Homo sapiens: one gene and its partners. The protein of the gene in region 1 purifies or fractionates together with the protein of each later gene. This does not show direct contact. Each region holds a gene or a part of one and is shown on either strand. Other genes may lie near its edges.

Region 1 (3,532 bases):
CAAAAATAGGAAGTAAAGAAATAGCCAATCATCTATCACCTGAGAGCACAGGGGAAGGGACAATGATCTGGATAGAAACCCAGGCATTCCAGCCAGCAACGGCTACCCACTTTGGGTCCCCTCCCGTTGTATGGGAACTCTGTTTTCACTCTATTAAAACTTGAAACTGCACACTCTTCTGGTCCGTGTCTGTTACGGCTTGAGCTGAGCTTTCGCTCGCCGTCCACCACTGCTGTTTGCCGCCGTCGCAGACCCGCCGCTGACTTCCACCCTCCGGATCCGGCAGGGTGTCCACTGTGCTCGTGATCCAGGGAGACACCCATTGCCGCTCCCAATCGGGCTAGAGGCTCGCCATTGTTCCTGCACAGCTAACTGCCTGGGTTCATCCTGATCGAGCTGAACACTGGTCGCTGGGTTCCACGGTTCTCTTCCGTGACCCACGGCTTCTAATAGAGCTAAAACACTCACCGCAGGGCCCAGGATTCCATTCCTTGGAATCCGTGAGGCCAAGAACCCCAGGTCAGAGAACACGAGGCTTGCTGCCCTCTTGGAAGTGGCCACCACGATCTTGGGAGCTCCGGGAGCAAGGACCCGCCGTAACAACAGCACAGTGCCCGGCACGTAGTAAGTGCTCAGTTAATCCTCCTGCCATTCTCTGCAGGCCCCACAAGCTTGGGCTTCACTCCTTACCCTGGTCTCTGGCTGCTTCCGCCCAGCCTCGCAAGTGCTCCCCTCCAGCAAGACTCCCTTGGAGGCCCCTGATTTGTCTGTCGAGGGACTCCCAAGTGTGGGGTGCTTTCGCAGTGGTGCACCCGGAAGATATTTTCTAGTGATGGTGGGTCTGCCTCACCCTGGCATCACCCTTATGGCTCCCACCACTTCCCTGCCCTCGCCCAGGAGAAGGAGCTGAGGCCCGGCTTGTGCAGCCCCTGGGCCTGACCACAATGCAGAACCTGGACTTCTTCAAACCCAGGCCTGTCTGTCTCTTGCACCTGCTGCCCTGCGGGTGTGTCCTGACCTCCAGCTTTTTCAGCCCCAGTCGGCCTTCCCCGCTGGAGCGCAGCATCCCGGAAGGCCTCCCAAATCTCAGCGCATGCCCCGCGGGCAGGGCCTCCAGCTGACGTCGGATAAATGAATGAATGAATGAATGATTACTAATGGTCAAAGCAATGAGGACACCGTCATGGTGGCCGCTGGGAAGGGTGGCTGCCTGGACACTGCACAGCTCACTGCCTCCTCTCCTCCAAATGCCACCTTCTCAGTCCCCCTGATGAACTGCCAGACTCTGTCCCACCTCATCTCCCTCTATAATTTTCTTTTTTTTTTTTTAAGACGGATTCTCGCTCCGTCACCCAGGCTGGAGTGCAGTGGCACGATCTCTGCTCACTGCAAGCTCCACTTCCTGGGTTCAAGCGATTCTCCTGTCTCAGCCTCCCAAGTAGCTGGGACTACAGGCGCCCACCACCACGCCCGGCTAATTTTTGTATTTTTAGTAGCGACGGGATTTCACCGTGTTAGCCAGGATGGTCTCGATCTCTTGACCTCGTGATCCGCCTGCCTCGGCTTCCCAAAGTGCTGGGATTACAGGCGTGAACCACCGTGCCTGGTCCCCTCTGTAATTTTCTCCAAAGTTCTCATGGCCCAACACCTTACAATGTTTTTCTCTGCGTTTGTCCCTTGCTGGTTCCCCCCGGAGGACGCAGCCACGTGGCAGGGATTTCTGCCACTTGCTCACTGCCCGGCCCGCCACCGGGGTGACTACACTTCATATCTCTGCGGTGCTCTCCCTGTGCTAATCGTCCTTCTCAGCACTCAGATGCCAACTCAACAACTCGAACCAATTCAACAAGGGGGACGCTGCCCCGATTCCCATTTCACAGATGGGGAAACCAAGGCAGAGGTCTGCAAAGTAACTTGATTGCAGCCGCGTGGTTAGGGTGGGGCTGGCTGGCTTTCGAGCTCAGGTTCCTGATCTGTAGGTACGCTGCCTCTTTCACCAGAGGGTGCTAAATAAATAGTGCTGAACAACACTTTGAGAGGCCAAGGCGGGCAGATCACAAGGTCAGGAGTTTGAGACCAGCCTGGCTAACATGGTGAAACCCCGTTTCTACTAAAAATACAAAAATTAGCCGGGCGTGGTGGCGCCTGCCTGTAATGCCAGCTACTTGGGAGGCTGCGGCAGGAGAATCGCTTGAATCCAGGAGGCGGAGGTTGCAGTGAGTCGAGATCGCACCGCTGCACTCTAGCCTGGGCGACAGAGTGAGACTCCATCTCAAAAAAAAAAAAAAAAATAGTGCTGAACAAATACACATGTCACACGGATGAACGACTGAGTGAGTGGCCTGCTGGGTTAGTCCAGGAGTAACTGAGTCCAAGAGTGACTTGCTGAATGAGTGAGTCAAGGAATGAACGCATGTGTGAATAAGTGAGTGGAGTGACGTGGAGGGGGTGAGTGAGTGAATGGGTGAGGACATGGGTGTCAGGATGGCCATGGGGTCTGGTGATCTGTCCCTCCACAGTAGGTTTCTCAACCTCATCTTTTTTTTTTTTTTTTTTTTTTTGAGATGGAGTCTCACTCTATCGCCCAGGCTGGAGTGCAATGGTGAAATCTCGGCTCACTGCAACCTCCATTTCCCGGGTTCAAGGGATTCTCCTGCCTCAGCCTCCTGAGTAGCTGGCATTACAGACATCTGCCGCCACGCCCAGCTAATTTTTGTATTTTTGGTAGAGACGGGGTTTCTCCACGTTGGCCAGGCTGGTCTCAAACTCCTGACCTCAGGTGATCCACCCACCTTGGCCTCCTAAAAGTGCTGGGATTACAGGCCTGAGCCACCGCGCCTGGCCAGCCTCGTCATAATTGTCATGGTGGCTGGATCATTCCCTGCCAATGGGTGGGGAGGGGGTTCTTGTGCATTGCAGGGTGTTGAACAGTTCCTGGGCTCTACCCATTGGATGCCAGCAGTGCGCACACACTCCCCAGCTGTCACAACCAAAACTGCCTCCAGGCATTGCCAACTGTCCCCCCGGGGACTCCGCCTGAGAGCTGCCGGCACAGAGAGCAAGAAGAGCAGCGTCTCACCTGTACTCCTCCACAAAGGACACATTTTCAGCCACCTGCAGGGGGCTCAGGGGCACTCCCTGCCAGAAGGCCAGCCCCTGCAGCTGCTGGGCCGCAGCCTCCGCCTGCCGTCGAGCCCCTCGGGCGGCAGCCACCAGCTCCGTGCGCGGCTCGAGCACCTCCTCCAGGGTGGTCAGCTCTGTCCTCACCGCCTCGCCCAGCCTCTCCACCGTCTCCAACACCTGGGGATAGGACAGGGGCTGAGGTCTGGAAGGACATCCTGGGGGGAGCCCGCGGTCGAGGCATGGGGTTTTAGAAGTGAAGGAGGGGTGCATAGTAGCGGGTGTCTGAGATCTGGAGTCTGGGACATCTGAGGATTGAGTAAGGGAAGGGATTGGGGAGGGGCTTCAAGATCAAGTTCATGGAGTTCTGTGGCCTCTATCCAGAGCTCTGGATGGTTGGTAGCTTGAGCCC
Region 2 (3,532 bases), on another chromosome or scaffold:
AGGCTCCAGAACAATGCGCTCTCCCTGCTTGGTGAGGGTGCCTGCAGCGCCTGCTAGCCAGGGCTTGCCTTGGCACAGTCACCCTTGCAGGTGATGGGGCGTCATGGAGGATCATGGGCCATATCCAAATGAAAGCTCTCTGCTCCTGCATCCTGCCCAGGGCTCGGCACTAACTCCAATCTCAGGCTACTTTGGCATGTGGGTAACCTTGCCCAGGAGGCCTCTGTGAAGTCAGTCTATGCCTTTAGTCCTCTGGAGTCACAGTTACACCAGTATTGAAACAGATTCTGTGGTTTTGCTTTTCTTTGAAATGATTTCCTCAGGTTTTCCATTTGCTCAGCTTTTCTAAATGCTTCATTCCCTGAAATCTTGTTCCAGGAAACATTAAGGGCTAGTGACTCTTTATATTTTCTACATTGAAGGCCACTTCAACAAGCTGATGAAAGATAACTGCTTTTCTCAAAATATCACATTGCTTTTCATAAAGTTCACTGAAACCAGCTCAGAGACCCCTGCTCCAGAGCAATGACCTTGTACAAGGTCAGTGTTTCAAGGAATCATGTCCCACATCCCCACTACCAAGCTTAAAGCAACTTCTCTCCAAACTGCCAGTGAATCCTTTCATCCTTCAATGAACAAAGGGTCAACTTGAAGAATATGCTACTTTTGACAAATTCTGTTAATATTCAATAAATTCTAAGTAATTAAAAAAAATTTTGGGGAGTGGCAGGTTCCAGAGAATACCTTTTCTTCTTAGCAGAAAGTTCCCCTTCCTCTGAATGCCACTGTAACAGATGGACAGAGCATTGAGCCTTAAAGATAAACTGACTCAGGCAAATTGCCAAGAGAAGCAAGACCCAGAACCTCTCCTAAGGTTCTCTGCAAAAGAGCCCAGATTGGTCTCAACAGCTGAAAGACCGCAACAGATCCCAACTGCCCTCATGATCCAGCCCCATGAGATGGTGCTACATCCAGTCTACAGTGCAAAGCCAGGTAAAGCCAGGACTCCACCAGAAATTAGGCACTTTCTATGTGCCAGACACTGTGCTAAGAGTTACACCCATACCATCTTCCATAACCCACACAACCTCTCTAGGAGGAAGTGGATTCTATCCCCATTTCAAAGCCTAAGCTTCTACCCACTAGGTTATCCTGCTCAAGGGTGTGGAAAGAAGTGCTCCTCTACCAGTCTGGGCCAGGAGCTCAGCTCAGCTCAGCTAGGCCAAGAGGCAGTTCCTGCCTGCTACCTTCGTCCAGCCCAGCCTAGTGGTGTGGCCACTTGCCCTGGCATCAGGCTTACTATCTAGATGCAGCTGCGAAGAAGTAAACAGGACAATTAGTGTTTATAGTAAGGGATTACTCATAAAGGTTTGCCCAGATTGGCCGGGTGTGGTGGCTCACGCCTGTAATCCCAGCACTTCGGAGGCCGAGGTGGGCGGATTACCTGAGGTCAGGAGTTCGAGACCAGCCTGACCAACATCCTTGAAACCCCGTCTCTACTAAAAACTACAAAAATTAGCCAGGCACGGTGGCATGCACCTATAGTCCCAACTACTCAGGAGGCTGAGGCAGGAGAATCGCTTGAACCTGGGAGGTGGAGGTTGCAGTGCGCCGAGATTGCATGACTGCACTCCAGCCTGAGCGAGAGAGCGAGACTCTGTCAAAAAAAAAAAAAAAAAAAATTTTCACCCAGATTAAACATTCTAAGGAAGAGCAGAGAAAAATAAATGAACCAAACAAAGATTTAAAAAGTCAATGGCTAACCTTGCTAAAAACAGTTTGCATTTGGTATTTTGCCAAGAGTGAACTTTGTTCTCAAGTGGGTTTATTTTTACAACCTCCAAGTGCTAAATTTAACCTTGTTGGCTGCACTTGCTGCTGGATTCGGAGGGCAGATGCTGCTTGTTCTCAAATGGCACTTGGGTTGTGTGGAGGCTCTGCATAGCCGCTGTACTTAAATGCCAGAAATAGATTTTTAAGGGGTTTGTGCTGATAACTGCCATTTGGAACTTGTGGGTACACGCATCATGCTTACTCACTGGATTTTTTTTTTTTTTTTTTTTTTTTAGATGGAGTCTCGCTCTGTCACCCAGGCTGAAGTGCAGTGGCACGATCTCAGCAGACTGCAACCTCCGCCTCCCGGGTTCAAGAGATTCTCCTGCCTCAGCCTCCCAAGTAGCTGGAATTACAGGTGCGCACCACCACACCCAGCTAATTTTTGTATTTTTAGTAGAGAAGGGGTTTCGCCATGTTGGCCAGGTTGGTCTCGAACTCCGGACCTCAGGTGATCCATCCTCCTTGGCCTCCCAAAGTGCTGGGATTACAGGCATGAGCCACCACACCTGGCCACTCACTGGATTTTTATTTATACCTGGAGAGTGCCGAAGCTCTGAACTAGGCCTCATGGGGATGGGGACAAAAGCTGAGAAACTACCTCTGGTGCAATCCTTACCATGAGCTCTTTGTATAATTCCAGCATCTTACTGCCACAGAGGAAGATGTGGGGCAGGCGGGTGTTTGAAGAATGTGAAATGCAGATTTTCATCCAGTTCTTGCAGAAAGCAACAAAGTCAAAGCCCTCCCAGGACCCAGACAATGGGGATTTTCAGGACATACACTGGCTTTCACCTGATTTGGATCCATGTATATACTGCCTTTTTATTGAGACAGGATCTCGCTCTGTGGCCCAGGCTGGAGTGCAGTGGAGTGATCACAGCTCACTGCAGCCTTGATCTCCCAGGCTCGACCTCCTGAGTAGCTGAAACCACAGGCATGTGCTGCCACACCTGGCTTATTTTTATACTTTTTCTAGAGATGGGGTTCCCAGGCTGGTCTCAAACTCCTGGACTCAAGTGATCCTCCTGCCTCGGCCTCCCAAAGTGCTAGGACTATAGGCATGAGCTACCATGCCTGGCCTATATACTGCCTTTTAATATGAGGCCTTTATCCTGCTCTAAAATTCTTTCCTGATTTTTGATTCTTGTAAAATCTAGTTTAGCAATGGGGTAGAGTATTTCCTGAATCCTCAGTGTTTTTCAATAAATTGGAATTTCCTCTTCCTGTTTAATTTCCTCTTATATCCCAGAGTCATTGCTCACCAACTTCCTAATGCACCTTGAGAGAACATTAGGACTTTGCCGTACAGAAATAGGGGGCAGAGACCAGGTCCCTAAGGGTGAGCTAGGACACTAACCCTGCTGTTGTTATTCACAATCCTCAGCATTTTCATTGTTTTCTACTCCTGAGAATCCTCTCTTCAAAAGACATTTGTTGAGCACTTGTTCTGAAGCAAGGACTGTGCCAGAACCCTGGGACACAAAATTAGTAAGACCAAGTTCTTATTCCCAGACAGTCCATAGTCTTGCAGGGGAGACTGACATATATCCCTGGAACTCTAACACTGTGTGATTGGTACTATGTTAGCAGGCTGAACAAAGTGCTTTAAGAACACAGAGGAAGGAGAGCTTAACTTGAGGGCGGGGTTGGGAGTGTGTGATGGTCAATGAGGGCTTAGCAGCACTGTGACTGAAGA
Region 3 (3,532 bases), on another chromosome or scaffold:
GGGTCTCACTATGTTACCCAGGCTAGTCTCGAACTTCTGGGCTCAAATGATCCCCCCGTCGTGGCCTCCCAAAGTGCTGGGATCACAGGTGTGAGCCACTGTGTCCAGCCAACACTAAATCTGGTACTTTACCTTATAGTAAAAATGAATAAGATAAAATTCCCTGCCAGCACCAATTCACAGTCAAATTTTCTTGTTGAGAAATTGTAAGAGTCCAAATGTATTACAGTGTTGATATCTTACCTTTTCTTTTTGCTTATGATCATATCCATGGTTTGCAGCAGTCGCCGTTCCAGGGCTAGAATATCCGTGTCAGTCACATTCCTACAAAAAGCACAAACTGCTAGCAAAATGTTTTGGGGTCCCACTCTTGGGCATGATACAGGGTATCTGGAGACAAACATAGACTTCAACTGTTACCTACTACTTTTTTCTAGAAAATAGTAAAATGACCATAATAAACTAAAATGCCTTTGCTCTCATTTCTTATAGCTAATCCTCTGGGATCTCAGGGAAATGGAATTCACCCAGCTCTCTTACAGTTTTTCTTAGCTTTGATCCAGTTACATTTATATATATATATAAAATATATATTTAAATATTTTTATTTTATTTTTTATTATACTTTAAGTTCTCGGATACATGTGTAGAACATGCAGGTTTGTTACATAGGTATACACGTGCCATGATGGTTTGCTGCACCCATCAACCCGTCATTTATTTATGAAAGAGTCTAGCTCTGTCGCCGAGGCTGGAGTGCAGTGGCATGATCTCAGCTCAGTGACATTTAGGATGTATGTTTAAGCACACTTTTAACTTGGCATTGTCTTCTACTGTTCTGTTAATATCTAGGAGGGGAGCTGAACTGCTGAAGTTGGAGTTGGTTTATACTGCTGGTCACTAGAAATGTGCCTTTAAAAAAGTGGGAGGGGAGTGTCAGATTGAAATTTGCCATTTAAAAAATAAATGAATGTAGGACAAATAATAAAGGCAAGCCGTACAAGTGATAATACTTATTTAGAAAGATTTCCAGGTCAATGCCCACAGGGACAGAGGAAGAGAAGAATAAAAAGACAGTGTCATAGATCTAATATATAATCTTAAAGATGGTGGCATAATATGACATATGTATTCAAGAAGTAATGGGGCAAAAAAGAAAGGATGCAAAGCGCTCTGTTACCTGAGGAAGTAAGACATGTAAGTGTATGGGCAGTTGACAGCACCAAATCCAGAAAGAAGAGCCATGAGAGTCACTCCAATCACACCAACCCGGCTGATGAGCTGTTCTATGGATAAGATCCCTAAAAACATCAAGGCACATTAATGCCAGGTAATATAGACAAAATGGCTCTCATCTGTACTGCAAAAGGAAACATTATTTAAAACATTAACCATTACACATAACTAACTCATACAAGCCAACTTTTAATTATTAATGTGTAGATGATTTATAATAAATATACTAAAAGTTTACTGATTTTCCTCCTGTCCCATATGCTTCAGAGTGATCTCTTTTATTGGGTGATAGCAGTAAAATAATAACAACAATAATTATAAATAACAATCATTGACTGTTTACTCTTGGTAGCATGAATGCTAACAAAGCAAAGTACTTTTAGTAAAAGCATCGGCCAAAAAAAAAAAAACTAAGAAAGTAAATCTGCTGGAAAAGTATAAATAGCAGGAACTACTTTGTGCTAATTATCTTTGATATATATGTATTTCCCCTAAGGTGATACTCTTTTGCTTTTGTCTTATTCTTTTTTGCATCCAATAAACACAGAATTCATCTAATAAAAGGACTAAACTTATAGATGAATGAGTAATTCAAAGGCAAACACATCAGTTTCGGATTATAAATTGTATCCTAATTATCAATTGTTTCATATCACGTGAGAATGCTGAAAATCAACTTAGCAGTTAAAATAAATACTGCTGGTTGATGTATTTGGGATAAATGAGAGAAAGCAATGCTGAAGAATAACTCAGTAAGTTTGGCATTGCAGAAAAAGAATGGTTTTAACTGGTTTTCACTTTCTATTTCTAGGATAGAATTCACTACAGCCATCCACTCCTATGGTCAAATGCCAGAGCTATAATTCAGGAATTCTGTCAGCTTCAAAACTGAAAATTCCAATATTCCTTTTCTGACTACTGGCCTCCATTCCTAGTCTTTCTATTTCCACTACACTCGTTTTAGAGGTCAGTGCAACCTCTGGTCTTCTGCTTCTCCATTCTTCACCTAGCTTGGACTCCAGGCTTGCTGGCTTCAAATTCTCTCACCAGGAGCCTCAATCTCCTACTATCTTCCTTCTGAAGCGCTAATCCTACAAATTCCCAACTCTGGATCAGTCTAACACTCTGCCTTCCCTGTGCCCATGTTTTGCTGCCTCAAATTGCTAGAATGCGTACTGATTTTGGAGCCATTACAAATGTATGGTCTCCAGTCCTAAGAGAGCTCTCACACTATTGACTAATCCTTATCTTGCCCTTGGTCAGCCATCTCTCTCCATTGTCTTCGGCAGTTACTCTTTATTTTTCCTACCTTTGTCCTTCTCCTTTGCCAATGTCCTTATTATAAAAGACATAGCTATTAGCCATAAACTACCTTCACTCTACACTATGGTCATGAATTTTCTCCTGGTTGCAAAATTCAACATTTTCCAATCTTTGTTTTATGGGCTGTTTTATAACATTGAATATACATCTGCAATCATCCTCCCAACTTGTCTCCCTTAGAACAAAGTAGCATCCAAAGCTGACTTCTCCACTTGTGCTTCTGATCTTCTCTGGGCCCTGGGAACTGTCTCATCCTTATATGTGAGTTCTGGGATATTGCTAGTGATAATCTTGGTGCTATTTGTTTTTGGTTTTCTGCCAGGGGGGTAAGCAAAGCCAGCTTGCCCCTACGCCACCATCTTGGAACTAGCAGTCACCATACTTTTGATTGTATTCAATCCCTTCCACCTCTTTCAGAGTCTTGTTCCATCATCTGTCTCCTCTCTCTTGTATATTCAATATTTCCTTCTTTGCTAGTTCTTTCTCTTTAGTTTCAATTCTCTTTTCTAAGAGAAATTCTGTTCTTGGCTTCGAGTTTACGTCTAGTTACCAACCCCCATCTATTTCCTCCTTAATAGCCAGGCTTCTTAAAAGAAGTTTATAGTTATTGTCACCTTTTCTTCACCTCCAGTTCATTCCTTAACTGACTGCAATCCAGCTTTCTTCCCATTCTTCTTTATTGAATGAAATTACTTTCACTAGTAATTGTAATGGCAATAGGTAATATTCACCAAGCACCTGCTATGACTAGGCACTGTTCTAAGCATTTCACATGTTCTAATTCATTTAACCCTCATAACAATCCTATGAGGTAGATATTATTGAAAACCTAATTTTACAGATGAAGAAATGGAGGCACAGAGAGGTTAAGTAACTTAGTTAAGGCCACACAGATAAAAGGGGCAGAGTCAGGATTCAAGTGCAGTCTAGCTCCAGAGTCTGGGCTTTAACCACTACGACACTATGGTAATAA
Region 4 (3,532 bases), on another chromosome or scaffold:
AAAGTTGAGAATCAATGTGATATATACATTAAAAAAATTACAAATTAAAGTCTGCTTTTACATATCTACTTTATATATTAGTAACAAAGAGAGAATTGTCTTTAACGAGTCTGCTAACAAAATACTCAAGTATGAAAATTCTAATGCTGCTAAATATCCAACATTGAAAGGATAAGTCCCCTTTAGTTCCAATTCCTGTAGCATGTTACCAATTGAACATACTTTAATCAGCAGTAAAAATCAACATTGAACCCCCTTTCTCCTGACTTAGTATATATGTTATGGGATTAAAACAAATTTAACTATTAATCTAAACAAGACATGATTAAGAATGTGTTATATACTGTCATTTTGAGGGTCAGATGCCAAAAAAAATATGTCTTTTGAACGATCAATATTCCACTAAAGTCTGGTAAGATAGTAAATCTTTTTCATTCCATCACTTCACCTCAAGTAGAACAATTTCTGGGATAAAGGAATGGAACTTAGATTTCTCCACTTCTATTTCCAGTTCTGTATTTGCTCTATTTACATGATCTAATACTACTACCTTCCCTTATGTACCTCTGAATGAGCTGCCAAAAACCCACTAATGTTCTACTTAATACTCATTAGTAAACTCATTCACAAAGTGACTGTTAAAAGGTTCTCCATTGCTGTCAGGTCGATTGAAGCTCTGCAAAAGCAAGGGCCCAGGCTTGCTCATACCATGTCCCCAATGCCAAGTACGATGCCTGGCACAGAGAAGGCATCCAATGAATATATGACGGATGCAAAAGTTTATTACGTCTTCAGATGTTGCTTAAAATGTGTTAAAATAAAATGCCAAGGTGCTTTTCTTTTAGGGTTGCCAATACAGTTGGAATCTAACTTAATATTTTTCATACTCTGCCTATCCTTTATAAAGGATTTGAGGAGGGCTTATAAGATTTAAAAACAATAAAATGCCAAAAGTTAAATAATAAAAAGTCAGGACCAGTGAAAATAGAATAAAGATGGTGTGTATGTTGGGATGGTGGTTGATGATGGACACAGGTATGCAGGCTGTATTTACATACATAGTAGTGAATAGCAGACTGGGCTCTGGGCTGCTCAGTAGCCTAGGCAAATAGGGGATGTTTTGTGTAGTTACACAGTGTATTACTTCGTTTTCACACTGCTGATAAAGACGTACCCAAAACGGGGAACAAAAAGAGATTTAATTGGACTTACAGTTCCATATGGCTGGGGAGACCTCAGAATCACGGCAGGAGGTGTAAGGCACTTCTTACAGGGCAGTGGGCAAGAGAAAAACGAGGAAGCAGCAAAAGCGGAAACCCCTGATAAACCCATCAGATCTCATGAGACTTATTCATTATTATGAGAATAGCATGGGAAAGACCGGCCCCCATGATTCAATTACCTTCCCCTGGGTCCCTTCCACAACACATGGGAATTCTGGGAGACACAATTCAAACTGAGATTTGGGTGGGGACATGGCCAAACCATATCATTCTGCCCTGGCCCCTCCAAATCTCACGTCATCACATTTCAAAACCAATTATGCCTTCCCAACAGTCCCCCAAAGTCTTAACTCATTTCAGCATTAACCCATATGTCCACAGTCCAAAGTCTCATCCGAGACAAGGCAAGTCCCTTCTGCCTATGAGCCTGTAAAATCAAAAGTAAGCTAGTTACTTCCCAGATACAATGGGAGTACAGGTATTGGGTAAGTACAGCTGTTCCAAATGGGAGAAATTGGCCAAAACAAGGGGGTTACAGGGCCCATGCAAGTCCAAAATCCAGTGGGGCAGTCAAATTTTTAAAGCTCCAAAATGACCTCCTTTGACTCCAGGTCTCACATCCAGGTCATGCTTAAGCAAGAGGTGGGTTCCCATGGTCTTGAGCAGCTCTGCCCCTGTAGATTTGCAGGGTACAGCCTCCCTCCTGGCTGCTTTCATGGGCCGGCGTTGAGTGTCTGAGGTTTTTCCAGGCACACGGTGCAAGCTGTCAGTGGATCTACCACTCTGGGGTATGGAGGACGGTGGCCCTCTTCTCGCAGCTCCACTAGGCAGTGCCCCAGTAGGGACTCTGTGTGGGGGCTCCAACCCCACATTTCCCTTCTGCACTGCCCTGGCAGAGGTTCTCCATGAGGGCCCTGCCCCGGTGGCAAACTTTTGCCTGGGCATCCAGGCGTTTCTATACATCTTCTGCAATCTAGGTAGAGGTTCCCAAATTTCCATTCTTGACTTCTGTGCACCCGCAGGCTCAACACCATGTGAAGCTACCATGGCTTGGGGCTTTCACCCTCTGAAGCCACAGCACTAGCTCTGCATTGGCCCCTTTCAGCCACGGCTGGAGCAGCTGGGACACAGGGTACCAAGTCCCTAGGCTGCACACAGCACAGGGCCCCTGCACCTGGCCCACAAAACCACTTTTTCCTCCTGGGCCTCCAGGCCTGCCATGAGAGAGGCTGCCATGAAGGTCTCCGACATTGCCTGGAGACATTTTCCCCCATGGTCTTCAGGATTAACATTAGGCTCCTTGCTACTTTTGAAAATTTCTGCAGCCAGCTTGAATTTCTCCTAAAAAAATGGGTCTTTCTTTTCTACTGCATTGTCAGGCTGCAAATTTTCTGAACTTTTATGCTCTGTTCCGCTTTTAAAATGGAATGCTTTTAAGAGCACCCAAGTCACTTCTTGAATTCTTTGCTGCTTAGAAATTTCTTACACCAGATACCCTAAATCATCTCTTTCAAGTTCAAAGTTCCACAAATCTCTAGGGCAGGGGCAAAATGCCTCTAGTACCTTTGCTAAAACATAAGAGGAGTCACCTTTCTCCAGTTCCCAACAAGTTCTTCATCTCCATCTGAGACCACCTCAGCCTGGATTTCGTTGTCCATATCACTATCCGCATTTTGTTCAAAGCCATTCAACAAGTCTCTAGGATGTTCCAAACTTTCCCACATTTTCCTGGCTTCTTCTGAGCCCTCCAAACTGTTCCAGCCTCTGCCTGTTGCCCAGTTCCAAAGTCGCTTCCACATTTTTGGGTATCTCTTCAGCAGCACCCCACTCTACTGGTACTAATTTATGGTACCAAGTTCATTTTCACGCTGCTGATAAAGACATACTCGAAACTGGGAACAAAAATAGGTTTAATTGGATTTACAGTTCCACATGGCTATGAGGCCTCAGAATCATGGCGGGAGGCATAAGGCACTTCTTACATGGTGGCAGCAAGAGAAAAATCAGAAAGAAGCAAAAGCAGAAACCCCTGATAAACCCCATCAGATCTCGTGAACTTACTCACTATCACGAGAATAGCATGGGAAAGATTGGCCCCCATGATTCAATTACCTCCCCCTGGATCCCTCCCACAACATGTGGGCATTCTGGGAGATAAAATTCAACTTGAGGTTTGGGTGGGGTCACGGCCAAACCATATCACATAGTTTTCACTGCCCACATGAAAACATACAAATTCATCAGAAAAGTAAATTTTGCTTTTTTTAGATACAGGGTCTCACTCTGTCACCCAGGCTGAAGTGCAGTGG

What was found. The genes of interacting proteins can lie anywhere in the genome.
Region 2: the proteins of TTYH1 (region 1) and DNAJC18 purify together in Homo sapiens (affinity purification with mass spectrometry; one large-scale study listed by BioGRID and IntAct). This does not show direct contact.
Region 3: the proteins of TTYH1 (region 1) and GPR89A purify together in Homo sapiens (affinity purification with mass spectrometry, with the first as the bait; one large-scale study listed by BioGRID). This does not show direct contact.
Region 4: the proteins of TTYH1 (region 1) and ALG11 purify together in Homo sapiens (affinity purification with mass spectrometry; one large-scale study listed by BioGRID and IntAct). This does not show direct contact.

Annotation. Positions count from the first base shown.
Region 1 is NC_000019.10:54,421,958-54,425,489, reverse strand, and holds part of TTYH1 (protein tweety homolog 1), read right to left. Parts: intron 3,301-3,532; coding exon 3,080-3,300; intron 1-3,079. UniProt on the Homo sapiens protein: Calcium-independent, swelling-dependent volume-regulated anion channel (VRAC-swell) which plays a pivotal role in the process of regulatory volume decrease (RVD) in the brain through the efflux of anions like chloride and organic osmolytes like glutamate.
Region 2 is NC_000005.10:139,415,526-139,419,057, forward strand, and holds part of DNAJC18 (dnaJ homolog subfamily C member 18), read right to left. Parts: intron 3,068-3,532; exon of another isoform or gene 2,477-3,067; intron 2,192-2,476; exon of another isoform or gene 2,070-2,191; intron 1-2,069.
Region 3 is NC_000001.11:145,628,456-145,631,987, reverse strand, and holds part of GPR89A (Golgi pH regulator A), read right to left. Parts: intron 1,302-3,532; coding exon 1,181-1,301; intron 325-1,180; coding exon 244-324; intron 1-243. UniProt on the Homo sapiens protein: Voltage-gated channel that enables the transfer of anions such as iodide, chloride, bromide and fluoride which may function in counter-ion conductance and participates in Golgi acidification.
Region 4 is NC_000013.11:52,015,366-52,018,897, reverse strand, and holds part of ALG11 (GDP-Man:Man(3)GlcNAc(2)-PP-Dol alpha-1,2-mannosyltransferase), read right to left. Parts: intron 1-3,532. UniProt on the Homo sapiens protein: GDP-Man:Man(3)GlcNAc(2)-PP-Dol alpha-1,2-mannosyltransferase that operates in the biosynthetic pathway of dolichol-linked oligosaccharides, the glycan precursors employed in protein asparagine (N)-glycosylation.